4 separate regions of the Homo sapiens genome follow, and regions 2, 3 and 4 are each reported to be linked to region 1. Evidence: microRNA targets listed by miRTarBase, many of them from high-throughput screens and not tested one by one. Region 1 holds a microRNA gene; each other region holds the end of a gene's coding sequence.

The links. Region 1 holds the annotated microRNA hsa-miR-6808-5p (CAGGCAGGGAGGUGGGACCAUG, at 2,055-2,076, shown strand). A microRNA usually pairs through its seed, bases 2 to 8, with sites in the 3' UTR of a target mRNA and lowers its output. Matches are read on the target gene's strand: a 7mer-m8 pairs with bases 2 to 8, a 7mer-A1 pairs with bases 2 to 7 and ends in A, and an 8mer does both.
Region 2: miRTarBase lists SLC35F1 as a target of hsa-miR-6808-5p. Seed matches in the 3' UTR shown: 7mer-m8 at 2,006-2,012 and 7mer-m8 at 2,644-2,650.
Region 3: miRTarBase lists TIFA as a target of hsa-miR-6808-5p. The part of its 3' UTR that is shown has no 7-base or 8-base seed match.
Region 4: the mRNA of NMUR1 is a reported target of hsa-miR-6808-5p. Seed matches in the 3' UTR shown: 7mer-m8 at 1,373-1,379.

The regions. Positions count from the first base shown.
Region 1 is chr1:1,334,640-1,341,757 of GRCh38, reverse strand. MIR6808 (microRNA 6808) reads left to right here and starts at 2,050; the gene lies at 2,050-2,108. TAS1R3 (taste 1 receptor member 3) reads right to left here. Exons shown (of 6, transcript NM_152228.3): 6 at 6,444-7,118. DVL1 (dishevelled segment polarity protein 1) reads left to right here. Exons shown (of 15, transcript NM_001330311.2): 5 at 1-91; 6 at 1,255-1,348; 7 at 1,442-1,511; 8 at 1,581-1,720; 9 at 1,946-2,022; 10 at 2,109-2,176; 11 at 2,319-2,471; 12 at 3,105-3,236; 13 at 3,322-3,489; 14 at 3,575-3,781; 15 at 5,243-6,480. The coding sequence ends at 5,616. RefSeq lists a silencer at 3,755-3,814.
Region 2 is chr6:118,313,544-118,320,661 of GRCh38, forward strand. It overlaps SLC35F1 (solute carrier family 35 member F1), which reads left to right. Exons shown (of 8, transcript NM_001029858.4): 8 at 485-4,128. The coding sequence ends at 709. Among named protein-coding and RNA genes, the nearest start is that of PLN, 230 kb to the right of the region's middle.
Region 3 is chr4:112,272,087-112,279,204 of GRCh38, reverse strand. It overlaps TIFA (TRAF interacting protein with forkhead associated domain), which reads left to right. Exons shown (of 2, transcript NM_052864.3): 2 at 771-4,668. The coding sequence starts at 789. The coding sequence ends at 1,343. AP1AR (adaptor related protein complex 1 associated regulatory protein) reads right to left here. Exons shown (of 10, transcript NM_018569.6): 10 at 6,095-7,118. Among named protein-coding and RNA genes, the nearest start is that of TIFA, 10 kb to the left of the region's middle.
Region 4 is chr2:231,518,718-231,525,835 of GRCh38, reverse strand. It overlaps NMUR1 (neuromedin U receptor 1), which reads left to right. Exons shown (of 3, transcript NM_006056.5): 3 at 411-2,649. The coding sequence ends at 793. Among named protein-coding and RNA genes, the nearest start is that of LINC00471, 7.9 kb to the right of the region's middle.

The sequences.
Region 1 (7,118 bases):
GGCTGCCCCCAGACAGCGCGTCCACCGCCCTCAGCAGCGAGCTTGAGTCCAGCAGCTTTGTGGACTCGGACGAGGATGGCAGCACGAGCAGGTGTGTGGGAGTGTCTGTGGGCGTGTATGCCTGTGTGCCCACTTGCAAATGTCTGTACATGATGTGCATGTGTCTGCATGAGGTGTTTTCACATTGCACGTGTGTGCGTGTGTGTGCATGTGTGTGCCTGCAAATGTCTGTGTACATGATGCACGTGTGCTTGTGCACGTGTTCCACATGAGGTGTTTTCACTGTGCACGTGTGTGCGCGCCTGTGTGTGTGCCCGCGTGCAAACGTGTACATGATGCACGTGTCTGCTTGTGCATGTGTGTCTGTGTGAGGCGTTTTCACATTGCGGATGTGTCTGTGCATGTACCTGTGTGCAAACGTTTATGTACATGATGCGCATGTCTGTGTGTGCATGTATGTGTGTGTGAGGTGCGTTTTCACAGTGTGCACGTGAGCGTTTTCACAATGCACGCGTGTGCGCAGGTGTGTGCATGTGTGCGTGTGCGTGTGTGCAGGTGTGCGTGTGCAGATGTGCGTGTGTGCAGGTGTGCTTGTACAGGTGTATGTGAAGGTGTGCGTGCAGGTGTGCATGTGCAGGCGTGCGTGTGCAGGTGTGTGCAGGTGTGCCTGTGTGCAGGGGTGCGTGTGTGCAGGTGTGCATGTGTGTGCAGGGGTGCGTGTGTGCAGGGGTGCATTGTGCAGGGGTGCGTGTGCAGGTGAGTATGCAGGTGTGCATGTGTGCCTGTGCAGGTGTGTAGTGTGCAGGGGTGCGTGTGTGCAGGTGTGCATGCGTGTGCAGGTGTGCGTGTGTTCATGCGTGCGTGTGCAGGGGTGTGCATGTGTGCCTGTGCGCAGGGGTGCATGTGTGCAGGGTTGCGTGTGTGCAGGTGTGTGTGCAGGTGTGTGCATGTGTGCCTTGTGCAGGGGTGCGTGTGTGCAGGTGTGCATGTGTGTGCAGGTGTGCATGTGTGCAGGTGTGTCAGTAGTGGATCTGGCTACATGTGTCTGTGCCCAGTTTGCCTGTCTCTGGGATTTTCGTGTGTGCTCATATGCATATCACGTGTGCAGGGCCTGGGGCGTGGACGTCAGGCACTGAGCCTGCTTTGGAACAAGCCTGGCCTAGACCCCCGATTCCCACTCAGTATTGGGGGAGCGGGTTCCCACCCCCCTACCCATGTCTCCAGCTCCTCTGAGCTCTGACAGTCTGTTCCCAGGCTCAGCAGCTCCACGGAGCAGAGCACCTCATCCAGACTCATCCGGAAGCACAAACGCCGGCGGAGGAAGCAGCGCCTTCGGCAGGCGGACCGGGTAGGCAGCCGGGTGGAGCAGGGCGGGGCTGGGGAGGCGAAGTCAGTGTCGGGCAGCCCCGTGCCTTTTACACACGCCCCCTCTCCTCCATAGGCCTCCTCCTTCAGCAGCATAACCGACTCCACCATGTCCCTCAACATCGTCACTGTCACGCTCAACATGGGTGAGGCCTCGGGGCGAGGGTTGGGGGCAGGGGCAGGGGCTTGGCCGCGGCTCATGGCTCTTCCTGCAGAAAGACATCACTTTCTGGGCATCAGCATCGTGGGGCAGAGCAACGACCGTGGAGACGGCGGCATCTACATTGGCTCCATCATGAAGGGCGGGGCTGTGGCCGCTGACGGCCGCATCGAGCCCGGCGACATGTTGCTGCAGGTGTGTCTGTGGGGGCTGCGGGGTGACATGTAGCTGCGGGTGGGTCCGTGGGGACTTTGGGGTGACGTGCGGCTGCGGGTGGGTCTGTAGGGGCTGCTGGGGGACATGCGGCTGCGGGTGGGTCTGCGGGGGCTGCTGGGGGACATGCGGCTGTGGGTGGGTCTGCGGGGGCGGTGGACTGAGCTGCACATCCTGCCTGCACCACCCTAATCCCCACCCCTGCAGGTGAATGACGTGAACTTTGAGAACATGAGCAATGACGATGCCGTGCGGGTGCTGCGGGAGATCGTTTCCCAGACGGGGTGAGGGCTGGGGGCGCTGGAGCGGGAGGGGCCAGGCAGGGAGGTGGGACCATGGGGGCCTTGCTGTGTGACCACCGTTCCTGCAGGCCCATCAGCCTCACTGTGGCCAAGTGCTGGGACCCAACGCCCCGAAGCTACTTCACCGTCCCACGGGGTGAGTGGCCCTCGGGGCACACGGGGCGGGATGGGGAGGGGGCGCCTACCTAGCCTGAAGGCCTCTCTCCTCTGTGCCCTGCACCCTGCCCTCCCACCCTGTCCATCTGTCCGCCTGTCATCGCCACGTGGCGGCCACCCAGCTGACCCGGTGCGGCCCATCGACCCCGCCGCCTGGCTGTCCCACACGGCGGCACTGACAGGAGCCCTGCCCCGCTACGGTACGAGTCCCTGCTCCAGCGCCGTCACGCGCACCAGCTCCTCCTCACTAACCAGCTCCGTGCCTGGTGCTCCACGTAAGTGGCAGCTCCTGAGGGCCCCAGCAGAAACCGAGGCTTGGAGGGGGCGTCTCTGCCAGCCTCCAGCATGGCCGCCTGTGGCCGTCATGGGGCTGTGACACGTGTGTGTTGCCTGTCCCCAACTCCCTGCACAGACGTGTGCACAGGCACCCGTGCCCACCTTGTGCAGCCCATCCTGCTCATGGTCTGTGTGTTGGGAACAGGGGATGTACGTAGGGCCCCTATGCGGGGAGCACCCACGGCGTCAGAGGCAGGGGCCAGGTCTCCATTCTGCTTCCTGCCATTAACACGACTAACAGCCTGCGCTCTCGGGTGGGGCATGCGGGGAGGGGAAGGGGCCTGCCCTGTTCTCATTACTTCCTGGTCTGCAGGGTGGGGTGTCAGCCCAGTTTGTGCCTAGGATCCTGATGAAAAGTGTCTGTAGAAGTGGGAGACTAAATGTCCAACCCCCCTGCTCACGCCCCAGCCTCACGGGGGTGCATCCTGCAGTGGGCCGGGGCCCTGCTGTCACGCACCGTCCAGCTTGCGCCCTGGCGCAGGCTCTGCCCAGAGGCTCCCCTGGGGGTGCAGGGCCCTGAGTCCCCCGCCTTCAGATGCTGGGGCTGAAGCGGGGCTGTCTGTGCTTTGCAGAGCTGGAAGAGGCGCCGCTGACGGTGAAGAGTGACATGAGCGCCGTCGTCCGGGTCATGCAGCTGCCAGACTCGGGACTGGAGATCCGCGACCGCATGTGGCTCAAGATCACCATCGCCAATGCCGTCATCGGTGAGTGGCCGTCCCCGCGGGCGGATAGTGCCAGGGGCAGGGCTGCTTGCCTCGAGGCTGCGGGCTGACCGCTGGTGCCGGCCAGGGGCGGACGTGGTGGACTGGCTGTACACACACGTGGAGGGCTTCAAGGAGCGGCGGGAGGCCCGGAAGTACGCCAGCAGCTTGCTGAAGCACGGCTTCCTGCGGCACACGGTCAACAAGATCACCTTCTCCGAGCAGTGCTACTACGTCTTCGGGGATCTCTGCAGCAGTGAGTGGGGGCTTCGGGCTTCAGGGCGGGGGGGAGGGGAACGCCGGAGGCCCCTCCGCGGCCCTCACCTACCCTCCCCCGCCAGATCTCGCCACCCTGAACCTCAACAGTGGCTCCAGTGGGACTTCGGATCAGGACACGCTGGCCCCGCTGCCCCACCCGGCTGCCCCCTGGCCTCTGGGTCAGGGCTACCCCTACCAGTACCCGGGACCCCCACCCTGCTTCCCGCCTGCCTACCAGGACCCGGGCTTTAGCTATGGCAGCGGCAGCACCGGGAGTCAGCAGAGTGAAGGTGAGAACGCCGCCCCTACCTGCCCTTCCCCGGCTCCGCCCCCAGCTCCGCCCCACTCCACTGCTGCTCCGCCCCCAGTTCCACCCCACCCCGCTGCTGCTCCACCCCCAGCTCCACCCCACCCCGCTGCTGCTCCGCCCTGCTTCTCTGCTGACCCCAATCCCATGCTCCTGCTGTGTACTTGGGCCCTGGGTGGGCTCCTTCTGGAAAAGGCAAGTGCCAGGGGGATCCAGGAGCCAGTGTGAATGGGGAGGACAGGGAAGCGTCTCACACAGGGGCAGCCTGGACCCCACCTCATCTGGGTGGGATTGGGATGAGGGGCCTCCAGGAGCCTGGCGGCCTGGGCGGCTGTGCCTGGTAGGGGTGGCGGCTGGTGGTTCTCCTATGGTAGAGGCAGGAGGCCCTGAGACCATGTGGCCATGGGCCATGTGACAAGGACAGGGCAGGGGTGGCCAAGGAGTCTGACAGGGTCACTTTCTAGGCCCCAGGACACAGGAGGGTGGCAGCTGCAGCCCGGGTAGGGAGCCTGACGTGGATGGTGCCGTGCATCCTAGCCTTGTGCCCCTGGCTGGGGTGTGTTTAGGGGCCGGGGATCCAGAGTGTTCCTGAGGTGTTGCCTGGTGGAGCAGAGGCCCCAGTGGGTGGGGTTGGTGAGGCCAGCAGGGGCGTCTGCAGGCCAGGGAGGGGTGCAGGTGGCTTCGTGGAGGGCCCAGGAAGGAGGGCGAGAGAGGAGAGGCGGCCAGAGGGTGTGGGACCGCAGAGAAGCCACGCTGGGTGTCTACTGACCCTCGACCGGCGCTTGCGCCCACTTCAGCCCCGCCCAGCCCGCGGTCAGTCCCCACTGGTGGCGGGTGGGTGCTGGGCAGGTGCCAGGCAGCCGGGCGTGTAACTCGTGCTATCCCTTGTCTTGTGCTAAACAAGCCTTAGACTGAAGGACTAGCGGAGCGGACCTTGGGCCGGTAAGCCAGGGTCCCGCCCGGGGTCCCTCAGCATGTCCCCAGCCAGCCACGCCCTCCAGCTCCCACTGCGTCTTGGGAGCCCAGGACAGGGCTGAGCTGAGTCATCCGTCGGCCAGGGTCCTGGGCCGGGGGGACAGTGGGGCCTTGGGTGGGGAATCCAGGATGGCCACGGGGGCACCGGGCATGAGGGGCCCTCGCTGGCACCTCAGTCTTTCAGCCGCAAGACCAGGCCCTCAGCTCAAGCATCGGGGTGAGGTGTGGGGGCGCCCAGCTTGCCCCAGGACCCTGCCTGCCTCCCACTGCCCCCACCAGCCCATGCCTGCCGCAGCTGCCCCTGCGACCCTGGGGGTGCCGGCCCTGTCCTCGCGCCTGCATGGCTGCCCCACCCACCCGTCCTGCACGGGCCACCGTTCCTGCCCGGTCACCTGGCGGGGGCGGTTGTTCTGGACGTGGCCGGGCCTGGTGCTGACAGGCTCCTTCCCCATCCTGTTCTCACTCCCAGGGAGCAAAAGCAGTGGGTCCACCCGGAGCAGCCGCCGGGCCCCGGGCCGTGAGAAGGAGCGTCGGGCGGCGGGAGCTGGGGGCAGTGGCAGTGAATCGGATCACACGGCACCGAGTGGGGTGGGGAGCAGCTGGCGAGAGCGTCCGGCCGGCCAGCTCAGCCGTGGCAGCAGCCCACGCAGTCAGGCCTCGGCTACCGCCCCGGGGCTCCCCCCGCCCCACCCCACGACCAAGGCCTATACAGTGGTGGGGGGGCCACCCGGGGGACCCCCTGTCCGGGAGCTGGCTGCCGTCCCCCCGGAATTGACAGGCAGCCGCCAGTCCTTCCAGAAGGCTATGGGGAACCCCTGCGAGTTCTTCGTGGACATCATGTGACTCGTGGCGCATGCCCCAGCCCTGCCTGAGGTGGGGAGCTGGCGGTCCTGCCGCATGCAGAGCTCGCGTGGGCTTGCCTTCGTGGGGGCCAGGACGGGAGGCAGGGTGGGGGGCAGGCTGGACCACCACCATCTGCCCTGGCAGCCTGGCTGCTCCAGCTCCTGACAGCACCTGTGTCTGAGCAGCCGTGTTGGGGGCGCTCCCTCTCTGCCCCTCAGCGAGAGCCTCGGACCTCCCAACCCCTTGTGTCTGGTGGGGATCCCTCCTGGGATGAGGAAGACCCCCTCGGGCTCTCGGCTGACCCCCACCTCCTGCACAGCTGTGCCCAGGCCCCCAGGGTGGTCCATGCGGGGCAACCCCCTGCGGTGCACAGGCCCCCTGTCTGGAGTAGGGATCTAATTTATTTATTTATTGCCTGGCCGGTGACTCGGGGGAGGAGGCGACCCTGTCATCTGTCCCACCTGCTGCTGCCCCTTGGAGCAGCCTGCACCTTCTCTCCTCCCATCCGGCAACAGTCTGAAAGTACGTGGAGGACGGGACCGGAAGACGAGAGAGGGCTGGACATCCTGCCCACCGTGTCCCAGCCAGGGCAGGGAGGGACCATGGCCCGCAGGGTCAAGGGGCCCCGATGTGCACAGCTGCCACAGGGAGGGAGGTCTTGGGGAGATGGGCAGTCAGGTGGCCCGTCCTTGGTGAGTGCACACACTGCGCGCACACATCGCGGCCTTCCTGGCTTCTCTGGCCCCCACGTGTCTGTGCTGTAGATACTGTATCAAAGTCCCAGCGTTTAGATGGTTAACATAGAGCTGCTTCTGTGTAAATGCTGCTTATTTTAAACACTAAAAAGCGTTTAATTTTATGGGACAGATGTGTGGCCTGTGCCCCTTCTCTCCGGCTGGGCTGCCTTGGAATGAGGCACAGGGAGCTGGTCCAGCCTCCCCTAGGCCCTGCTGGGAGCTGACCCTGGGACTCTGACCGGAGACCCTGTGTGGGCCTGGCGGCGTGCTGGCGTCAGATCCTGGTGGGCAGTTTTCTGTCCATGGTGCTGGCTCCGGGGTCCTGGTGGTCGGTGCTGGCCGTGGTGCTGGACCCCGCCCCCACCCCACCTGGGCTCTGTCCCTGGTACTGGTGACAGTCATGATGCTGTCTACCCACTGGGCAAAGGGCAGAGTAGGAAGCTGGGTGCCACCCCTACCTCGGCGGGCTCTGCCCTGGGCATATGCCTGTGTGCCCCCACCTGGCCTCCCACTGCTGTGGTGCCTGGCAGGGTGCAGGATGGGGGCCCTGGTGGGACATGGTCAGGTCGGCAGGGCCTGATTTGGGCTTCCAGCCATCTGGCCGGGGCCTCCCTGCGTCCTTTTCCTGAGCTCACGGTGTGGGTTGCGGGTACCCTGGGAGCCCTCCGGGCCTCTTTCCAGAACAGTGGGTCTGGGTTACCTGGGCAGGCCTGGTCTGGGCACAGAGGGACAGGGACACAGCTTGGCTCTGGGGCCCAGATGGTC
Region 2 (7,118 bases), not on the chromosome of region 1:
AATAGTGTCTGAATTGGATTAAGGTGAAATGAGAGTGCCCTGATGCAGCTGTCAGTGAGCGGTTCATTGTTTATGGCTTCATTACAACCCTAAAGGGGATATCTGTATTTCTCTAGGTTTAATGAAGCCACAAACAACCAACTTTTTATTGACTGATACTGGAGATTTTTTGCTTTTAACTTGATGCATTTTAATTTGTGCTTAACTAGTTCTCGCACCATACCAGATCCTCAGATTGGCACTTTAGAGATGATTAGCTAAGTGTTCCTCTGTGTTAGCCACAGGGTCTAGGAAAGATAAGGAGAATCAATAGGACCAAGCCAGTTTATGATGAGAAAATTCATTCTCCATCAACGGTGTTGGCCAACTCATCATGCTGCCTGTTCTGAGAAGAAGCAGCTCTGCTCATGTTTCTGTGTGCCTCATTAATGTGTCAGTGGTTCTGCCCTGGCTGTCAAATGACTTTACTGTTGTGTTTTTTTAGTTTTCAGGACTTTATCTCCTGTCTTTCTTCACCATCCTCATTGGGCTGGTGCTCTACTCCTCCACCTCCACCTACATAGCCCAGGACCCCCGAGTGTATAAGCAGTTCCGCAATCCTTCAGGACCTGTTGTGGACTTACCGACCACAGCTCAGGTGGAACCCTCAGTCACCTACACCAGCCTGGGCCAGGAGACCGAAGAGGAGCCTCATGTTCGTGTGGCCTAGGGTGAGGCCCGCCCTGCCAACTGAGGCCAACTCATTGGCCATGTTTTTGCCCATCATCTCTGTATTGTACATAGAGAAAGGTATTTACTAGGTGCAGTTTACACAGGTGGACTGCAAGGTAGCAAATCCTCCAAAAGCTTGTGAAAGGAACAAGCTCAACATCACTGGAGACACAGGCTCTAATCCACCTGACTTGGAAGGATGCCTAGCTAACGTGTATCCTGATCACAACTCCCCTGCATTCATTACTGTGAAAATTTTTGAATCAAAAGCAAGTATTATTGTTATTATGATTTGTATTATTATTATTGCTGTTACTGTTATTACACCAACTTTCAGGAGGATGTTTTGTACTCCTGATGGAAACTATTGCCAGACCCACATGTAGTCAACATAAACCCCACTTTTCTATGGCAATTCACTTTTTAAGAGTCATACTTTATTTTTTTGCACAGACTATATGAGTGATGCATGCCACAGGAGCTCCACCCCTGAGAAGTTTCCTTTTCCTAGGGACCTGGTGGTTAATGGTTTCCTCTGTTACCTGTTGGATTGCCTGCTCAATAAGTATTTTGTGCTGTGACCTTTGTGGGGAGGGGCAACTGACCATATACTTCTCTATTCTAGGAATAGATATAAAAGAAACATTTTAGCCTTTTTATATTTCGATCTCTGATTACTCCAGGCCATTGCCTTTCTGTTGTGCCACGTGATTCTGCTAATCAAGTCCCTGTAATAACAGGATAAGGACTGTTCCATTACTGTGGCTTTTGGGAGCCCCCAGAAATAATATCATTTGTGTTTAGGACAATATATAATTATAAAATCTTTCTGCTCCTCCCTGTAGCCTCTCTTCAAAAACTATCTTTTATTTTTTTTCCAGATTTCCTTAGTGATAATATGGAAATTAATCAAGGCACTGGAAAAAGCCATGGTCCTCTGCCCTTTTAATTCTGTGACACCTTTTTAAAAATACACCAGCATGGAAATTACCTTTATTGTGGAAAATCATTGGTTGTGCCACCTCCTAACAAAGTCAAGGTGCTGATGTGGAGCAGTCTTTGAAAATGGCTTAATTGATTTGGCCACTTTGCAGTGGTAACAATGTCATCATTGAAAAAGTCTGGCATTTTGGTCATATTTGGCATCCATTCAATAACAGATATATTGACACGACATTCTTTTTTTTTTTTTTTTTTTTTTTTGAGACGGAGTCTCACTCTGTCGCCCAGGCTGGAGTGCGGTGGCACGATCTCAGCTCACTGCAACCTCCGCCTCCGGGATTCACACCATTCTCCTGCCTCAGCCTCCCGAGTAGCTGGGACTACAGGCACCTGCCACGACGCCCAGCTAATTTTTTGTATTTTTAGTAGAGATGGGGTTTCACCGTGTTAGCCAGGATGGTCTCGATCTCCTGACCTCGTGATCCGCCCACCTTGGCCTCCCGAAGTGCTGGGATTACAGGCGTGAGCCACTGCGCCCGGCCGACACGACATTCTTATGGACCCAGAGAATACTGCAGGATCCTGATAAGACCTTGAGTGATATGTCACTAGTCTAATCTGTTGCCCTTAAAATAGCCCTTTTTTCAAACACAGGAAATTAAGAAACACCACAGACCTCTATTATTTAGAATAGATTCTATGTGTCAGTATGTGATGTACTCTTTTAGTTTGACTGACTTCAATACCATTCAAAAAGATCCTCAATGGAGTTACAGGGTTTATAGGGGAAAAATACATGTTTATGAGACATTGGGCAATTCAAATCAACATGTGTTACATAAGCAAGCAAAGCAAAACACCAGTGGGGTCTCTGGAAAGTAAAAGGACAGACTACAGTAGAAGGACTGATCCCAGAGTGCCTGTACAAGGCCTAAATCTGGCAGGCAAAAGCATCCCACACTGTCTGTCAGCACCCACATGGCCTTTTTGCCTGCCTTCTATAACGGGTAAGTGGACCTACCCTTGGAGATAGAGAAGAAAAATTATCTTCTCTGATATTCGGATGTAATGGTCATCTCAGTTCAGCCCCCTAGGAAACATGTTTTATTTTCCATGGGGAAAATATCAGCGTTAAAGCTCTATCAAATCAAAACAACTTTGCCAACATCTTCTCTCTGCTACCTTTTAAACCAATTAAATACCTTTCTCTGAATATTTTGTCCATTCAGATCCGAAGACCTTTAAAGACTGTGGTTTTATTTTTGTGTTTACATTCCTTTGGTTTGAATAATTTGCTTGATTTATTGCATTTTTAGTATTTATTTTAAGCCAGATGTTTTCATCTTTGATTCATTTTTATGACATTAATTTGTAGACACTTAGTAAAGTCTTATGAGAAGCAAGTGGATGAAATTATCTCCAAGTCCACTCAGTAGACTGGAGTTTTTTAAAAATATAAATTTCCAAAAAGTTTGCAATCAACAGATGGCTAAAGGTTGCCATCTGAATTATTTTATAGGATATTTTAATTGACTCCATTGTATGGAAACCAAGTGTGAATGTTAAGATGAATTTGCCGTATACCCTTTATCATTCGGTGTCCTTGTACTCAGACTTTCATGTCCCTGGGTGACCTCAATGTGTTGGTTTGTCTCCATTTAGAAAGGTTGATAATATATTGAATTGTTCAAGATCAGGAGTTCCAGACTGACCCTCCAGGAAAAAAAAAATCGCAAAGAACAAATTCTTTTTCTGTGTAAAAAACACTGATCCTTTGGGAATGGGGCGGGAAATGGGAGTAGGACAACATTAACTTTAGCTGTTTTAGTTTCTGAGATTTCATAACCTCAGTAGACACCAGCAAAATTTTCAGTTTCTAACTCCACCACCAATCTCTCCTCAATGAATAAGACTTTAGCAATTTATATAGAATTTGATCAGGTAAGAGCGAACCACAATTCTCCTGAACCCTGCTAGAGATTAAGTGGTGGTTCTCACTTCCTCAATGAAAACTTGCACTGGGGACAGCGCTTGCCTTGGTCAGACCTTCCCACATCTACATACTCTCAAATACATGACCAGGTGATCAAGCAATGGAAAAATTTGCACCACCGTGTCCCATGAAATTGTTTCAATGTTTAGTTTAGATATTGCTAACTTGTGCTATTAACCTTTTGACAAGCGTGTAGTATTGTTTGTTTTGGGTTTCTTTTTGATTTATAACTATTTAGTAGTCCCCAGCTAGCTACCAGTACAGATTTTACCCCATGGGTAGGATTCTATTGTTAAGCCACATAACAAAGCACACTAATTCTGACAACACTGCAAATGGAAAATACGAACCAAAAAAAAGTTACACCGATAAGTTCAACAAACTGTCCATTTTTGATATTTGCATGCTCCCCTATGGACTGGCTGTGGCAATGTAATGCCTGTATAATGTTTTCAAATAAAAATAAATGCTTTATGAAAGCACCGAATTCTTGGTTTTCTTTTGTGTTTGTCTGCACTATGACAACCGTGGAAGCAGCTCCCTTGGGATACTAGAAATAGCAACAAAAGTAGATGGCTGGGTACATGTCGAAATAAAAACCAGAAAGAAAATATTTCCAAATTAGGAAGGGCACAATTGGTCTCAGAAGTATAGTTTCAAAAGCCAAATTAAACATGTTCATAGTTTGCAAAGTTAATTATTTATCTGGGTACATAAGAACACTCTGGGGCTTCAAGCCCACATTTAAAACACATGTAAGACAATATAAATTTACCCCCAAGGAAAAGTTTCTCATAAAGAAGAAAGTTCTGTGTATGCTGGCCTTGGCACACAACAGACTTAACGGATGAGCATTCTTCCAGAGTGCAATGTTTATAAAGCAGAGATTGCTCAGATTTCTGCTCAGAACTTACACAGCATCTTATAATCATCCCTCCTCTACTAACTGCTGTCACTCCCCATAAGTACCTAGATTATAAATCTATCCCCATAAGTACCTAGATTATAAATACATTTACATGTTCTTGTCAGTTTTTGCAATCAGACCTCAAAAATTAAATGAGCCAAGAAGACTGTGTGTCTGAGTTATATATTAAGAATAATGTTTAAAGAAAAACATTCATTTTTCAGGAAAAAAGGAATTGTAGGACACTAAGTGCTTTATAAAGTGCTCTCAGGTTGAGATCCATCATGAGCTGCTTTTATAAATAGTTGGAATAGCATGTACTTAACATAAGTAATTTGCTTGAGAAATGTGACTCTCAGTTTAAATCAGTTTTTTTCCTTGAAAAAAATGTCAATCTTTCTCTAAAGTATTGTTTACTTCCATTTAGTAAGCTCTTTGATCAAAGATGAAATAAAGTTGAACTTCAGCCCAGCCTCTGTCCAAATGTGCAGCAATTCCAATTGATTGGGGCTCAGATTGTATATACAATAAATGTATGTCATGTTTCCCCAATGAATTAAGATTTGTTTTCTTAAGAGAAAGAACCGGGTTTCCTAAAGAACTTGAAAGTCCTTGCAATGGTAAGAGAAGGAAGCACTTGAGTGATTCTCATGACTATTAGCATGAGAGAAAAATAGAAACAAGTAAAATTCAGCAGGAAGGCTGTAATTTATTATATTGTCTTAATGTTCCACAAGAAAACAAATCGTAATGTCTAAAATAACAAGAGCTGAAATTAGATCCAGTTTATATATTTTCAGTGCCCAGCAAAACACCTTGCACATGGAAGGCACTCATACATCTTGTTTTAAGGGAATCAAGCTTCTAAACCATAAATACAAAGTACAAGGGTAAGATATTCTGTTACAAAATGTTCCTTTCTTCTTCTATTACTCTCGAGTACTTTTTTTTTTCTGTAAAATTCCTGCATCTTGGAAAGGAAGAAATCACCATGTCCACTTAAATGCACCCTTCTAGGGAATTTTTTACAATCGCTTACAATATTTGGCCTTTCAAATTCAGGCCTGAGGTATGAAATAACAAAGCAAAGTTTTGTTTTGTTTTCTCCTGCAAATAGTGTTTTGAATTTATAATATTCCTTCTTAGTTATATACACTGATCTTTCTTTTTTCCTTCTTCCTTTTTTCCTTGATTTCTTCTCTTTTTTTTTTTTTGTTTATTTTTCGTTCTTTCTTTTTTCTGCAAGCATAAACAGAGGGCTCACTATGAGCCATCTAGGCAGGTTCCTTTCATTCTCTATATGCTTAAAAAAAAGAAAAAGAAAAAACATTTAATTCAAAAAAAATTATAATACAGCTGGAAAGCCCTTCCCCTACCAGACGGCCTTTCATCAGTGCCTGAAAGGACAAACCATTGTGCATCACTTTTCAGACAAGTTGCCTCCAAACACTACTACAGCCTGATTAACAAGGGAAGCTAATGATCAGAGGGTGGAGGTCTCTGCGAATAGGCTCTAAGATTAGGGCCATCCATCTGGATGGACAAAGGCCTGGTGTGGACAAAACTAAAATCTGTAAAAGCATGCAAATGAGCTTGTTCACTGAGCCTCAGCATTAAAGCTGGGACCAATCCCATAACGCTTGAAGGATAATTTCAGGACAGATAAAGGTAAATATTACTTCACACAATGGAGAATAATCTTCCTGAACTCATTGCCTCAAACTGCTGGTATAGGTTAAAAATGTAAATGTTAGGTCACCTAATAGATGACAGAGCTACAAGGGGACATTAAGTGGGCCGAGTATGCAATTCATTATCCAATTGTTAACACTTTCAAAAGTGAAAGTGGGCACTCAGTAATGATGCCTGGACAACAGGTGTAGACGTGGTCCATCCCAGATGAACCTGCCTGTGTGGTCACTGGCTTTAAGAAATGCACTGGTCCAGCCCTCCCACTGGGAGGCCAGCAGCACAGTGGATTGCTACATCTTCCTGACACTAGCTGTCACTGTCTGCAGTAGAATAGCGGGGTGGAGGCAACCACCTGCTCACAATGGTGAGGGTGTTTGTGGATTCTTACTGCTGGAAAGCAGCACACTGGCCTCAGCCTGACTGTTCAGACCTCCTTCTTGGAATCATCTATGGCCAAGGTTGGTAGAGCAATGAGAGGAGTTCCAGTGGTGATATCTCAAGCATCTTCCCCACTGTTTCATTGCTAAATGTGTAAAAATGTAAAAAAGCAAGAAAGAAACAGGTGACCCTAAAAGAGGCAGTACTGCTGGAATTATTTAAAATTATTCATAAATTACAGTAAAAGCCTACACACCCATCCATTTCAAGAAATGCCAATGACAAATAAATGCCTGCATAAATGAATGCATAGCTCTCATGAGAGGGAGAAGTAGATTCCTAGGCACTGAAGAGTAGATGACTATGGCAGTCGATCAAAACCATCGTTCACTCAACTTTTTCCCAACAGGGTCCACAAATACCACTTCTGGAACTTTGGGCTAGTAGGTTGAAACATGGGGTGATAATGTCTATTTTTGTGCAAAGTTGGGTCTC
Region 3 (7,118 bases), not on the chromosome of region 1:
TGTGCTATTTGTAGTTAATGACAGTTTGTCCATCCAGTCATTGAGTACCACTGACAAAAATAAATAATTCTGATACCAGTGCAGGCTGTGATAATTAGAACCAACTCATGGAGACTTATATTCTTAAAAGTAATGTCTAAAATTTGAAATTATAGAATAAAATAACCATTTAAAGCATTTACTATTTTTAATCATTTACCTGTTAGAAATCAAAGTGAGGATATAAAGGATAAATGTTACAATTGTTTGTTTATAACTATTAAGTTTTTTTCTTTAACCAGGTTTCACAATTCATAATATATTTAATTATAATCCAGTTAATAAACTATGTTTGCTTTATGTATATATCCTCTGAAGGTATTCAAACCAAAGAGATTTTTTATTTCCTAATTTTCTTTTTAAAGTACACCTGTCATATTTTCTCTGGGCTCAAGTCACTCTATTTAGGTGAAAGAGGAACTGAGGTTTCTTTATGCTTCCCTCAAATCATTTTATTATCAAAAATCATTCTTTGTTATTGTCTGCATTTTATGTATGGTGTTATAGTCAAACTAGAAATGAAAAAGATAGGAGAAGCTAGTGTAGCAATTTTATAGGGCTTGGTATAAGATTTCACATATCTACTAGTTCACTGAAAGTATTGTCTATGTACTGTTTTCTTAAAGTCCAGATAAATTGCCTATCAGATGATGTTCATCAAAACGTTAGAATCAAAGTTCTCAATGCCTCAAGCATAAGCAGAAACTAACATGGTAATTTAATTATTGCAGGTGGGCCTTGTGCACATCATGACCAGTTTTGAAGATGCTGACACAGAAGAGACAGTAACTTGTCTCCAGATGACGGTTTACCATCCTGGCCAGTTGCAGTGTGGAATATTTCAGTCAATAAGTTTTAACAGAGAGAAACTCCCTTCCAGCGAAGTGGTGAAATTTGGCCGAAATTCCAACATCTGTCATTATACTTTTCAGGACAAACAGGTTTCCCGAGTTCAGTTTTCTCTGCAGCTGTTTAAAAAATTCAACAGCTCAGTTCTCTCCTTTGAAATAAAAAATATGAGTAAAAAGACCAATCTGATCGTGGACAGCAGAGAGCTGGGCTACCTAAATAAAATGGACCTGCCATACAGGTGCATGGTCAGATTCGGAGAGTATCAGTTTCTGATGGAGAAGGAAGATGGCGAGTCATTGGAATTTTTTGAGACTCAATTTATTTTATCTCCAAGATCACTCTTGCAAGAAAACAACTGGCCACCACACAGGCCCATACCGGAGTATGGCACTTATTCGCTCTGCTCCTCCCAAAGCAGTTCTCCGACAGAAATGGATGAAAATGAGTCATGAACACAGAAAGTCTAAGAGGAGAAATATGATGGATGAAGAGCTCTGTAGATGCTGTATAGACACTAAATAAGAGTTGATTAGGGTAGTATATTATAGTCATCTGTTATGCTGTGAAATTTGGAATTCAGTATTATCATTTTGAAGTCTGTAAATTGTGTTAGTCATTAACTTAGTCACCTGTTGTATTCTGGATCTACACAAAATTATTTTAACTGCTCTTATTAATCTGTGAGGATTAATATACAAAAAGTATCCTTTGAGATGAAGTCGTGTTCTCAAAATAAGGTTATATTATTTTCTTTTTCTGCTTGATTTTCATCTTGTGTTTTGCTTTGTTTTTGTAAGGAACCATCTCTTGGTTTGGTCACATCAGTTCACAACAGCCATTTGTTTTCAAGGTCAAGGCTCCAGGCAGGTTGTTACTGGTGTTTGCAGCCTGTCAGTACTTGCAGTACTGGAATAGGTTCTAGGCTAGTGTCTGCGCGTCACTGTGGTTTTAGCATGGGAGGACTTATTTGAGAAATACTACCTTACTTTTCTATGATTTCTTTTTACAGAGTTATAGTGTGTTTACTCCTAAGATGACAGTTCTCTTTGTCTATATTCAGCATCTAAGACAAATATTTAAACATTTTAAAGAACCACTGTGTTAAGTTTAGGATTATTTACTTACCAAATTAGAAGTTTGACTTTTATGTGTTATACACAATCTTAAAATTTCACGAATTCACCTTTTTAATAGTATCCATGTACATAATAAAATCAAAGTTTAATTAGCCATTTTCTTTGAATTTTTTTCTAAATAAGGGAAATAACTGTTCTTGGGCCACTTTACAGAGATAAATGTATGTGAATGTTTATGATAAACGCTTAAATATTTCTAAAATATTAACTTCAAAAAAGTCTTTTTCAGTTCTTAAATAAAAATTTATTTATTTAAGATACTTATTCGACTTATCTTAACTAAGGTAGCTATGAATGTTAAGTAGATGAGGTAACCATTCAGTTAAGTTAAATTGTAGCATTGCCAGGTAGTGAGGCTCACTGTACAATTTTCCAGGTAAATGAAATTTCCTGTAGTAAGAGGTCCGTATTTTTGTAACAGCCTTTTAAAAATGCTTTTGGGAACCCTCCAGCCTCTTACCAAAAGAGGCTTTAAACCTCATCTTGATTCAGACTGTCAGTCTATTCCTGGGCAGTAGTATGTGATGTCCAGCACCCTAACCCCGACTCCCCAGCCCTGGGACTATTCCAGTAGAGTGAAATATTTGTCCCTGTACAAAGTGGCCTGAATGACTGTTGGAGTTCCTGTGTCTGGTTTTCCTGTTTATTCCCTGTGATGCCCAGAGTAATGGCCCATCCAAAGATGTCCAGATGTCCATGTGCTAGTCTCCAGAACTTGTAACTGTGTTGTTATGTGGCAAAGGGGAATGAAGGCTGCAGATGGAAGTAAAATAGATTATGCTGGATTATCTGGGTGTGCCCAATTGATCACCGGATCCGTAAAAGTGGAAGAGAGGCAGATCAGGATGTCAGCGTGATGAGGTGTGAGACAGACTTGACTTGCTGTTGCTGGGAGGAAGGGGAGGTCATGAGCCAAGGAATGTGGACAGTCTCTTGAAGCTGGAAAGTGTGCATTGGACATCTGGAAGCCAGAAAAGACAAAGAAATATCCAGAAAGGAACAAAGTCTTGTGGACACCTTGATTTTGGTCCAGTGAGAATATGTTTGACTTGTTAACCTACAAAACTTTATGATGATAAATTTGTGTTGGTCGTAAGCCACTAAATCACAGTAATTTGTTATAGCAGCAGATAGAAAACTAATATACTCCCTTTAATATAAGGTTATCTACTATTGATTCTTTCTAGGATTTTAGCTTCTGGTCTGATGTGGGTTTACAGCCAGATCACCCGGCTTGAATTGCTTACAGTGTGTAGTCTCATGGTAAAGGCGTTCTATGAGTGAAGTGTATATACTTTAATGTGTGTATACTGTCACATTTTGACTATTTTGGAAGACTTTCACCTCTGTTTCTTGTCTTTGAGGCTGATGAATGTGTTTCTAAGTTATAAATTTAATATTAAGGGATTCATGTATTATTGTTATTGAATCCAAACAATGTGTTAAGTAATATTTAGGGCCAGAAAAATCTTGTACAGAATAATGATTTCTCCTAATGTAAATCTTGGAAAGGGTTTTGTTCAACTTGAGAAATATTAAATTTTTTATTCTATTTTCTTTTCTTCAAAGATTGGCAAAGGAGAGAGTGGGTTGCTAAAAGTTTATATTGTTCTCCAAAGAATAGAAACACTTTCCATAGCCCAACTCCGGTAGTAAATAATAATGAACGCTTTAATAATGAAAGAGCAATTGGTTAGTATTAGAATTGTTTTGATTACAAAGTTAGCATCTCTGCCTGAGCTACCCAACCCCAAAGCGGGGTTGTTAGAGGAAAGCTACCATATTTCATAGAACCGAGGAAGGAATGCAGCAGACCTCAGGTGAGATTCGAATGCTCTGGCTCTGACCCTCAATGCATATTGGCTCCATGGCCACCTGTAGCTCCCAAGTTTTACACGTTATTGATCCCCCAAAGAGACCTGATCTCTTGATTTCAGTTCCAGGGACGGGTCAGCTTGGGTCAGGTGCCCACCCCTTCACCAATCAACTTGTCTCAGGTAACGCAGTCACATTATATAATGGCTGCTCTGGTCAGTGATCATGTGGATAGATACAGCATTTTCTCAAAAAAATGGTCACAGGGGTGGGGGTGGGGCAAACAAAAATATTGGTGTTTGATACAAGGTACTGAAGCTAAGATGTGAAACCTTCCATATACACTTTAAGGACTTCTTTGTCCCTGGAAAGTGATTTTTCTGGGGCTCCTTAGGTAGAGAGGTGTATTAATGGTGCCAGTGTTAGAATCCTTGGCAGTCTCTTCTTGAACCTGCAACTCCAGTGGTTAAATCTCATAGGCCATATAACCATTTTCTAGAGAATTCTGTTCCTACTATCTAATGCAGTAACTGACTTAAAAGTAAGTATTACTGTTAGACTCTAACATAAGTGGTGGTATTTGTTTTAATGGAGGTGGGATCAGGTATGTGTTCACTTAAGCTTTACATTAAAAAAAAATTTATATGTGTAAATAAATATATATGCCTTGTAGAAAAATTAGCCATAATCTTACTACCAGAAGAGAACTACTGTTAACTTTGTGTGTGTGTATATGTGGTGGATGGTTTTATGTTACCTCCTGGCTCTTTTTATGTTTCCAATTCTCTAACACTTGTTTAATTAATTACTTATATTATTAAGATAACAGGCTTTGTTATTATTTTACTAAGTGGACCATGATTGAAACTATCAGTCTCCATTTCAGGTGGTGACCAAGATGAGCCCTACGACAAGTGGGTGGAATTTAATAGGTTTCTAGTTGGTATGGGTTGTCCTCAGATCCAACCTATTCAACCTACATGAAAATACTTATTTGTCCTTTACCTCTTAAGCAATGAACTTAGGGCTGGGAGCACTGGTGAAGAAACTGGGATGGCATTAGGTTCAGCTCTGTTGCTGGTTTCATAATTTTGTTGCTGATGGAAGGCTACCAAGGGACTAGAGATGAACCAGTTTGGCCCTGCTTAGTGGCAACAGTAAAATAACTGCTTGAAGGCCCAAATCAAGACAGTGACTTTTTTTTTTTTTTTTAGACTACTCAAGTGCAGTAGTCAGAAGGGGGGAAAAGAGTAGAACAAGAAATTCAATCTGTAACTGACTATGAACAATCAACTGAGCTAATTCAACAGTGACATTTTAAAACAGAAAACTTCTGAGATTAGACAGTCACAATAAGGTGTGACAATGAAATTTCCCCTTAGTTCACAGTACCTTTTTATAATAATATCACTTTCGGCATCTTGAAAGTTTTTTAATCCTTCAAAGTTAGGTTAGACACATTCTTTTTTTTTTTGAGTCAGAGTTTCGCTCTTGTTGCCCAGGCTAGAGTGCAATGGCGCGATCTCGGCTCACTACAACCTCTGCCTCCCGGGTTCAAGCAATTCTCCTGCCTCAGCCTCCAGAGTAGCTAGGATTACAGGCATGCTCCACCACGCCTGGCTAATTTTGTATTTTTAGTAGAGATGGGATTTCTCCGTGTTGGTCAGGCTGCTCTTGAACTCCTGACCTCAGGTGATCTGCCTGTCTTGGCCTCCCAAAGTGCTGGGATTACAGGCATGAGCCACCGCACCCGCCCAGGTTAGACACATTCTTTTTAATAGCTAAGCAAAAAAATCCCCTGAAGCCCCCAAAACTCTGAAAACAATACTGACCTAATTTCTACCGGAAAGAATTGTACAGTGTTGAGTGTGGGCTCTGAGTCATACTGCTTGGGTTTATCTACCATTCCTGTAATTTGACATAACTCAGATTCCTTTTTTGAAAAACAAGGATTAAATAGTGCCTCCTTCATAGGGTCTCTGTGAATATCAGAGATAAAGTATGTAGTCTCCTTACCACAGCATTTACACACAGTACCTGCTCCTCTGAGTAGCATGGGGCAGAGTTAGGTCCTCATTTTTAATGGTCTCATATAAGATTTCTGAACTACAGAGGACATTACTATATCTGGGTAGGAGGAAATAAATCTTTAAATTTGAAATAATAATATACAATTTTAAATATCATTTTCCAAATTTAATTTCATTTTCACCTTTAATATTTCCTAAGGATTCAAGAATCAGATGCAGGGATTCTGTTTCTCTCCATTTTTATTGTTATTGTTGTTGTTGTTTTACATTTAGGATTTCAATGTGGAATCTCAGATTTCTTTTGTGAACTCCTTTACTGTCAGACAATTAACCAGAAATACCAAATAAATGAAGATGGGAAAACACTACATATTTAACATAAAATCTTTTTTAGATGTCTGTATTCTCAAGAAATTATGATTAGGACATGTTTACATAGTTAAACGAAACCTCTGGCCTCTGCTAGAAAAATATATTTATCTATTGAAAAAAAAGCGGGCATAATTCCAAAATATATCATTTCAAAAGTTCTAGTGTTACCAGTGGTGAGTATGGGCACGCTCCATAGTCCTTGATCTTTGTCTTCTTGGGAGAAAGAATTCAGCCAAGAGACAGAATTATATTTAAGGCAGAAACAAGAGTTTATTGAAGCAAAAAAAAGTACACTTGGATGGAACGAAGGGGGACGTCAAAAGATTGAGTACCCAGCTTGACCTTTGTCTTAGGGCTCTTAGAGATTTATTATTTCCTATTTTTTTCCCCATCTCTTCCCTCCCTGTATGTGCAGTGGTTTGCCAGTATCTGGAAGGGCCTTTTGGTGATTGAAGTTATGCACATGCTCTCTTAGGGCAATTTTCCCTTACTGGGCTAGCACTCCCGGCCAAGCCCCATGGGAAGGTCATATATTTGTCAAACTCTGTCATTTTGCCCCTTACTGCGCATGTCTGGTCATGCCCCCAGAGGAAGGCCAAACTCTGCCATCTTAAATTCTTATTGGGAAGTTGTTGCCCATGAGCTCAAGATGTCTCCTGTTAGATTTTCCCTTCCCTGTCACCAGCCCTCACAGTCTTTGTGGCGCTGTCCTGCCCTGTTCATATCTGCCTATCTACTCTAAAGCTAGTATCTTTTAAATAAAAACCCTTCTATAACTCCACATCCCCTTCCAGCTACCCCATTTCTCTGCTCTCTTTTCAAATTGTCTGCATTAGCTGTTCTTTATTCTTCATCCCCAACTCCCCAGTTTCCA
Region 4 (7,118 bases), not on the chromosome of region 1:
GCATCAGCAAGCATGGCCCCCAAGTGGGCATCCAGAGTGGCCCTAGCCCCACAGCTTGTATCACCCCAGAAGCTCAACAGCCACAGCTAAGTGTCACCCAATTTCATATTCCAGGGTGAGAGAATCTGATTGGGCCGGCTGGGCTTAGGTGTCCACACCTGGTCCAGTTGGCTGTGGTCAGAGGCAGGGATATGCCCCATTGCCCACAGTCAGTGACCATGGTGAGGGCAGCCTCTCTGAGAGAGGCATGGCCAGAACAGGCAAATTTCCAGAAACTTCCACCTGGGTGATAGGTGAGGGTGGCCTGTGGGATAGGAGAGGATGTGAAAATGGGTGACCCAAACTGAAGCCCGGGAAGGCAGCTGAGGGGCCTCGGGCGGGCACTCGGCCTCCCTTCTCTGTCCCTGCAGTTGTCCTGGTCGTGGTGTTTGGCATCTGCTGGGCCCCGTTCCACGCCGACCGCGTCATGTGGAGCGTCGTGTCACAGTGGACAGATGGCCTGCACCTGGCCTTCCAGCACGTGCACGTCATCTCCGGCATCTTCTTCTACCTGGGCTCGGCGGCCAACCCCGTGCTCTATAGCCTCATGTCCAGCCGCTTCCGAGAGACCTTCCAGGAGGCCCTGTGCCTCGGGGCCTGCTGCCATCGCCTCAGACCCCGCCACAGCTCCCACAGCCTCAGCAGGATGACCACAGGCAGCACCCTGTGTGATGTGGGCTCCCTGGGCAGCTGGGTCCACCCCCTGGCTGGGAACGATGGCCCAGAGGCGCAGCAAGAGACCGATCCATCCTGAGTGGAGCCTTAAAGTGGCTTCACCTGGAGGGGCCAGAGGGTCACCTGGAGCTGGGGAGACACATCTGCCTTCCTCTGCAGGGATGCCTTCACGTACTGTCCCTAGTTCAGCCTAGAAATTCTGACCAGCACCTCAGTTTCCCTCAGAGGGAAACAGCAGGAGGAGGGATCCCTGACTGCTGAGGACTCACACTGACCAGACGCCACACCTTGTGCTTCTTATCTGTCCACTGCCACTCCCCCAGTTCAAATCCTTACCCTGCAGAAATATCACAGTTAGCTGGGGCTCAGCAGTCCTCCCTCTGGGGACTCCCTGCCACCACTGCCAGTTTCTGAAACGGTCCCACTGGGTCCTCACTGTCCTTCCCAGTTCCTGTTCAGGTTCTGGCAGGGGCCCAGGGATCCAGGGGACCTGGTTCCAATCTCAGCCCTGCTGTCACCACCTTGTCATGCACCATCAAGCATATCAGTCTACCTTTCTTTTTTTCTGAGACAGAGTCTCACTCTGTCGCCCAGGCTAGAGTGCAGTGGCGCGATTTTGGCTCACTGCAACCTCCGCCTCCGGGGTTCAAGCGATTCTCCTGCCTCAGCCTCCCGAGTAGCTGGGACTACAGGTGAGCCCCAGCATGCCCAGCTAATTTTTTTTAATTTTTAGTAGAGACGGGGTTTCACCATGTTGGCCAGGCTGGTCTCAAACTCTTGACCTCAGGTGATCCGCCGACCTCGGCCTCCCAAAGTCCTCGGATTACAGGCATGAGCCACCACACCCGGCCAATCAGTCCACCTTTCTAGGCCTTGGTTCCTTGCCTGAAAAATGAAAGAGGCGCTGGCTTTCCACAGTGTCATGCTTTGGCACTTTAGCTATGGTTTTCTTTCTGTGTGTGTGTAAGCCACTGCTTATAATAAAACCAACAATACCCTCAGACTGAAAGGGCGGAAGTTATTATCTGCATCTTTATCAACCCCAAGCCCCACTTCCTCCCTGACCTCCCCATGCCCTCCCCAGCCTCTCCCAGCACAAGTGGGGCAAAGCCAGCATGCAAGCAGACCCCACCACCACAGCCCACCTCCGTCCTCACATACGTGCAGGCTGGCTCGGGAGTCCAGTGAGCAGAGCATTGGACTTGGCTGGCCAGAGGGTCTCTGAGGGCAAGAGACATGGCCAACCAAGGGCAAGGAGTGACCCTGTGGAGGGTTCTGCCGAACTCAATGCAGTGAGAAGAGGGACAGGGACAAGTAGTCCTTGAAACTGAGCCCCATTCTGAATCCCTGCAGGCCAAGTCATTGCTCAGCCAGGACTCAGTTCATGGAGGAAACTTGTCCTGCTGCAGTCCCTGAGTCTTGTCCTCCTGAGAGGAAGCCCTGGCTTCCAAGGCTGGGAGCTGGAGGATGACCTTCGGTCGGTCTGTCTGGGTTCTCCCTGCAGACAGCTTCCTAGCTCATGCCCATAGCTCATGCTCCCTGCCGAGAAAGTGGAGGACGTGGTACAGGGTTGCAGATGTTTAGTTTTAAAAATTCAATTATAAAAATAATAAATGCTCATGATAGAAAATTTGGAAAGTGCAAATAAGCAAAAATGAAAACAATTTTAAAAATGTAAAACCTCTCTTGCCAGGGAATGGGGGAAGGGCAAGTGAGGAGTTCTTTAATGGGTGAAGAGTTTCAGTTTTGCAAAATGAAAAAGTTCTGGAGATCAGTTGTGCAACAATATGAATATACATAACAATACTGAACTATACACTGAAATGGTTAAGATGGTACATTTTATGTTATGTGTATTTTACCACAATTTTTATAAAAAGAGGATTAAATCTAAAGGAAAGAAAAAATTAAAACCACCCATAACTTTACTCTGAAGCAGTAACAGTGGCATGTTTCCTCCTAGTGATGTGTCATATGGTGGTTTTATTTTATATACACAATACACATAGACAATTTTGTATCTGGCCTTTTGTCCAGTGGATGTTCTATCCAAGCTCACGCTTGCACTCATTTGACTCATGGGATCCACTCTGATGGGCCTTGGCCAGCCCTGGGGGAGTAGGACTTGCATAAACCATCTGGGTGAATTCCCAGATGCTGGCCAGGAAGGCCTGGATGCCCCCTGCCTACTAAGTCCCTGGCTCGGGGGAGGAAGAGCCGTCCTGCCTGTCAGTCCTGCCCAGTGGACAAGTTCTGGGAGAAGCACAGGGGCTCCCGGACAGAGAGCAACAGAGGCTGGGGGTGGGGAGTGGGGACACTGAGGACAATGGGAGAAAATGGGAGAAGTGGGGACCTCGTGGAGGCCAGAGAGTGGATGAGGGAGCTGAGGGGAGGCTGGTTGGCGGAGGTGGTTTCCTCAGTGGGGGGCCCTGAGCCTGCCCTGACTTGAATGCACAGTCAAGCCCTGAGTGGGGACAGCTCCTAAGAAGTGGGCCTTGGGGGAGGGTGGGGGATAGGGGAGGGGAGTGACTGCAGGGACAGGGAGATTCTGCAGAGAAAGGAGCCTGTGAAAAGCTGTGCAGAGCCGTGAGCACCTGAGTGCTGCCCCTGAGCTCCCAGGGAAGTAGCCTTGGGGTGGGAGGGGGAGATGCCGGATCCCAAACTGCAGGCTGGACCCTGAAGTTGTTTCTCAAGACCAGCTCTGGACTCCCAGAGGCCTGCTTCAACCACAGTCAGAGGCACCTCATGCTCGAGGCACCCTGGACAGCATTATGAAGGGCCTCCATGTGCAGGCAGCAAGCAGACGGGCAGTGGGGTTGTTAGAAGGGTGCCCTCTGGGCCGGGCATGGTGGCTCATGCCTGTAATCCCAGCTCTTCGGGAAGCCAAGGCAGGTGGATCACCTGAGCTCAGGAGTTCAAGACCAGTCTAGGCAACATGGTGAAACCCCCGTCTCTACAATACACACACACAAAAAGTAGCCAGGTGTGGTGGCATACACCTGTGGTCCCAGCTACTTGGAAGGCTGAGGTGGGAAAATCACCTGAGCCCAGGAGGTCGAGGCTGCAGTAAGCCAAAATTGTGCTACTGTACTCCAGCCTGGGCAAATTGGAGTGAGGCCCTGTCTCAAAAAAAAAAAAAAAAAAAAAAGAGAAAAAAAAAGAAGGGTGCCCCTTTGTGAGCACCATGTATGTCTCCGCAGCACGTCAGCAACAGGTCCTGTCAGTCACTGGTTCCCATGGAAAACGGGAATAGCAGATCTGAACTCACCCCTTGAGAAACAGGGATGGCAATGGAAAGGGCAGAAGCAAGACCTGGCAAAAACACCGGTCATGCTGGGGCTGCATTCTCCTTGGTCCCCAGTGCTACTCCCAGGTCAGGAGGCCTCCATGCTTCTCAAAGTATCTAGCTCATCTGGGGCTCAAGTCACCTCCCCTTCCGACTGAGGTCACCATATCCCTCCTCCTCCTGTGGAGTTCAGGCCCTTTCTACTTCCCCTCTTCTCCACTCCTGCTGCTTTCCTGGGTGACGTCAGAGTCCATGGGTGACCCCACTGCTGCTCTGGGTGCCAGCTACTGATGGTTCCTGCAGCTCTGGAGACCCCACCCCAGTCTCCTAGCCCCTTGGTCACATCCTCACTCCCTGTGCCTCCAGGTGCTCTCCCATTTCAGAAAGTGTGAGCTCTTGACTGCTACTGCCTCTATCCTGCTCTCTGCTCCTATGACACATTTATTCTTTTATTTTTGTTTGAGATGGGGTCTTGCTTGGTCACCCAGACAGGAGTGCAGTGGCACAAACATGACTCACTGCAGCAGTCAACCTGCTGGCCTCAAGCAATCCTCCCACCTCAGCCTCTCAAGTAGGACCACAGGTACACATCACCATGCCTGGCTAATTGTTTTTCTTGTGTTGTAGAGGCACCGTCTCGCCATGTTGCCCAGGCTGGTTTGAAACTCCTGGGCTCAAGCAATCTGCCCACCGTTGGCCTCTTAAAGTACTGGGATTACAGGCGGGAGCCACTGCATCCGGCCATATTTATTCTTTAACCTCATCTAGACTTCCAGGTTCTAGACGGCTTTCTCCCAATCCATCAGCCTCCTCTGAGCTTCACTTCTTTTCTGATCCCACCATCAGTTCATCTACCCTACTCTGCCAGCGTTCCTGAGGGTGAGTACACTGGAATAATTCTTCCCTTCTCAGAAAAAGGCTTAATTTCCTTGAAAATTGAAAGTCCAAGATTAGTCTCATCAACAAACAAAGCTGCATATGCCTACCCTTCCTTCTGTTAGGCATCTACTCAGCAAAGGTAAAGTGTGTAGCACTACACATCTGTTCTCTTCATTACCAGGTGGCATTTCCAGATCATTCCTGGCATCTGGGAGCCTATCTCATTTTTGTACACTTCTCCAAGTCTTCCCCTTTCCCTATTCTTGTCTTCTAATGGATCCATCAGGTTCTTGTTCCAAATTTCTTTGTAGCGTGCTGGCTTCAGCAGCACATATACCAAATTTCCTTGTAGAGAGGAGTTGCCTTGTGGGGGAGAGGGGGCACACCCTAGCATTTGAACTCCTTTCTTATTGGGGGGAATCTCTCATTGTGTGACTCAGTGGAAGACTAAGCCCAGTCTCCCACTTACAGGGGTGAAAGAGTTCTGGACACTCTCCACTGCTGACATCTATTGGTACATGATGGACCAAGCCAGCTGGGTGACCCAACGTGGGACCTGTATCTGGAGCAAGTGACACTAAGACGCACAACAACAGGGGCAGGCGTGTCCAGGGGCAGCAGCACTGACAGCAGTATCCTGCCCAGTCTGTCTTGGGTTCCGCCCTTTTTCTCAGCCAGTTTTTCCTGCCTTCCTGTTGATATTTGAGCTACTGAGAGCATTTCAATAAGTTCTTTTTCTGCTGAAGTTGGCTGGAGTCATTTGCAACCAAGAACCTTAACTGATCTATCCACTGGCTTGAAGGTTACACATTCTGTTTGTTCTACTAGCAGTTATCTTTACAGTTTCTAAGATTAGCAAATATTATTGATTTCTTTTAAACTGCAAACTATAGTCTGTAATATTCTGTAATTATTCTAATCCCCCTCCTCCTCCTGGCAGGAAAAATGAGGACAGATTTCAGAATTTGATCCTAGAAACATACGTACACTATTTTATTTTATTTTATCTTATCTTCTTATCTTATTTTATAGAGACAGGGTCTCACTATGTTGCCCAGGCTGGTCTTGAATTCCTGGGCTCAAATGATCCTCCTGCCTTGGCCTCCCAAAGTGCTGGGATTACAGGCAAGAGCCACTGCGCCTGACTCATACTTACATTTTTCTAACAGTCTAAACCTCTTCAGCACAAGAAAAGAACCCCAGTGTGCTTCTAACACACTGTGAGTTAGTAGAGTGGAGTGTGGAGGTGGTGAGCAAGGACTCTCTGGTTGGGCTGCCCAGCTGTGACTCCTGGTTCTGCTGCTAATTATCCTTACATGTCAGAATGACCTAAGGCCAAAGTCAGACTGGACTGAGAGGTACTGACATTTCTAAAGAAAGAATGTACAATCTGCCTGCACACAAATGAGACTCAGAGGCAAACACTGACAGTCTGCAACATCGTTCCAAATGGTGTCCAGGTTTCTAAATCTACAAGGTGTAGTCTGAGGATGGTGGTGACTCTCTAAAGTAAATGTTCTTTCTGTGGCCCCTTCAAGGCAATACCCCAACCTAACATTCAAGTTTCTGCACAAGGCAGGGCAGGAAAACTGGGGACTGGGCAGGATCAAAGGCCTGACGCATAGGTGCGGGACAGTGGGGACTCAGGGAAGGCGAACTTGGGTAAGTGCGCCCTGGTCAATAAGAAGAGGCCATGGGCTGGAATTAGACTGGAGAGCCTGGAAGCTGCAGCCACATCCTATGGAACATCCACAAGAGTTTCTGGAATCTTTTAATCTAACATTCAAGCCCCTTCTTCAGCTCTAAGCAACACAGGCATCATTCATCCAACATTTATTGAGCACCAACCATGTGCCAGGCACTTTTCAAGGCTGAGGCGGGGTGAAGGAGAGGGCAGATAAACATACTGGCATATAAGTGCTTTGACAGCTGGAACTCAGGCATCGAAGAGAGGCACCTGCCCCAGCCGAGGGAAGGCTTCCAGGAGGAGGTGATGCGCCCAAGTCCTGGGGAGAAGGGTCTGACTGGCCCCTGAGCTTTGGCCAGGGAAGCAGTTCCACCAAAACTGAATCAGGGGAGGAGGTGGAGAGCCTAAAGGGAATGAGGGATGTCAGGAGGCAGAATGAACACTGGACAGGCACACACAAAAGCAAAGCAACTGAGGTCCACTATCATCACTGCTGGCGCGTGGACTTCCCTGGCCACCCTTCCTGGAACTTGGACTTGGAACCTTCCCTCC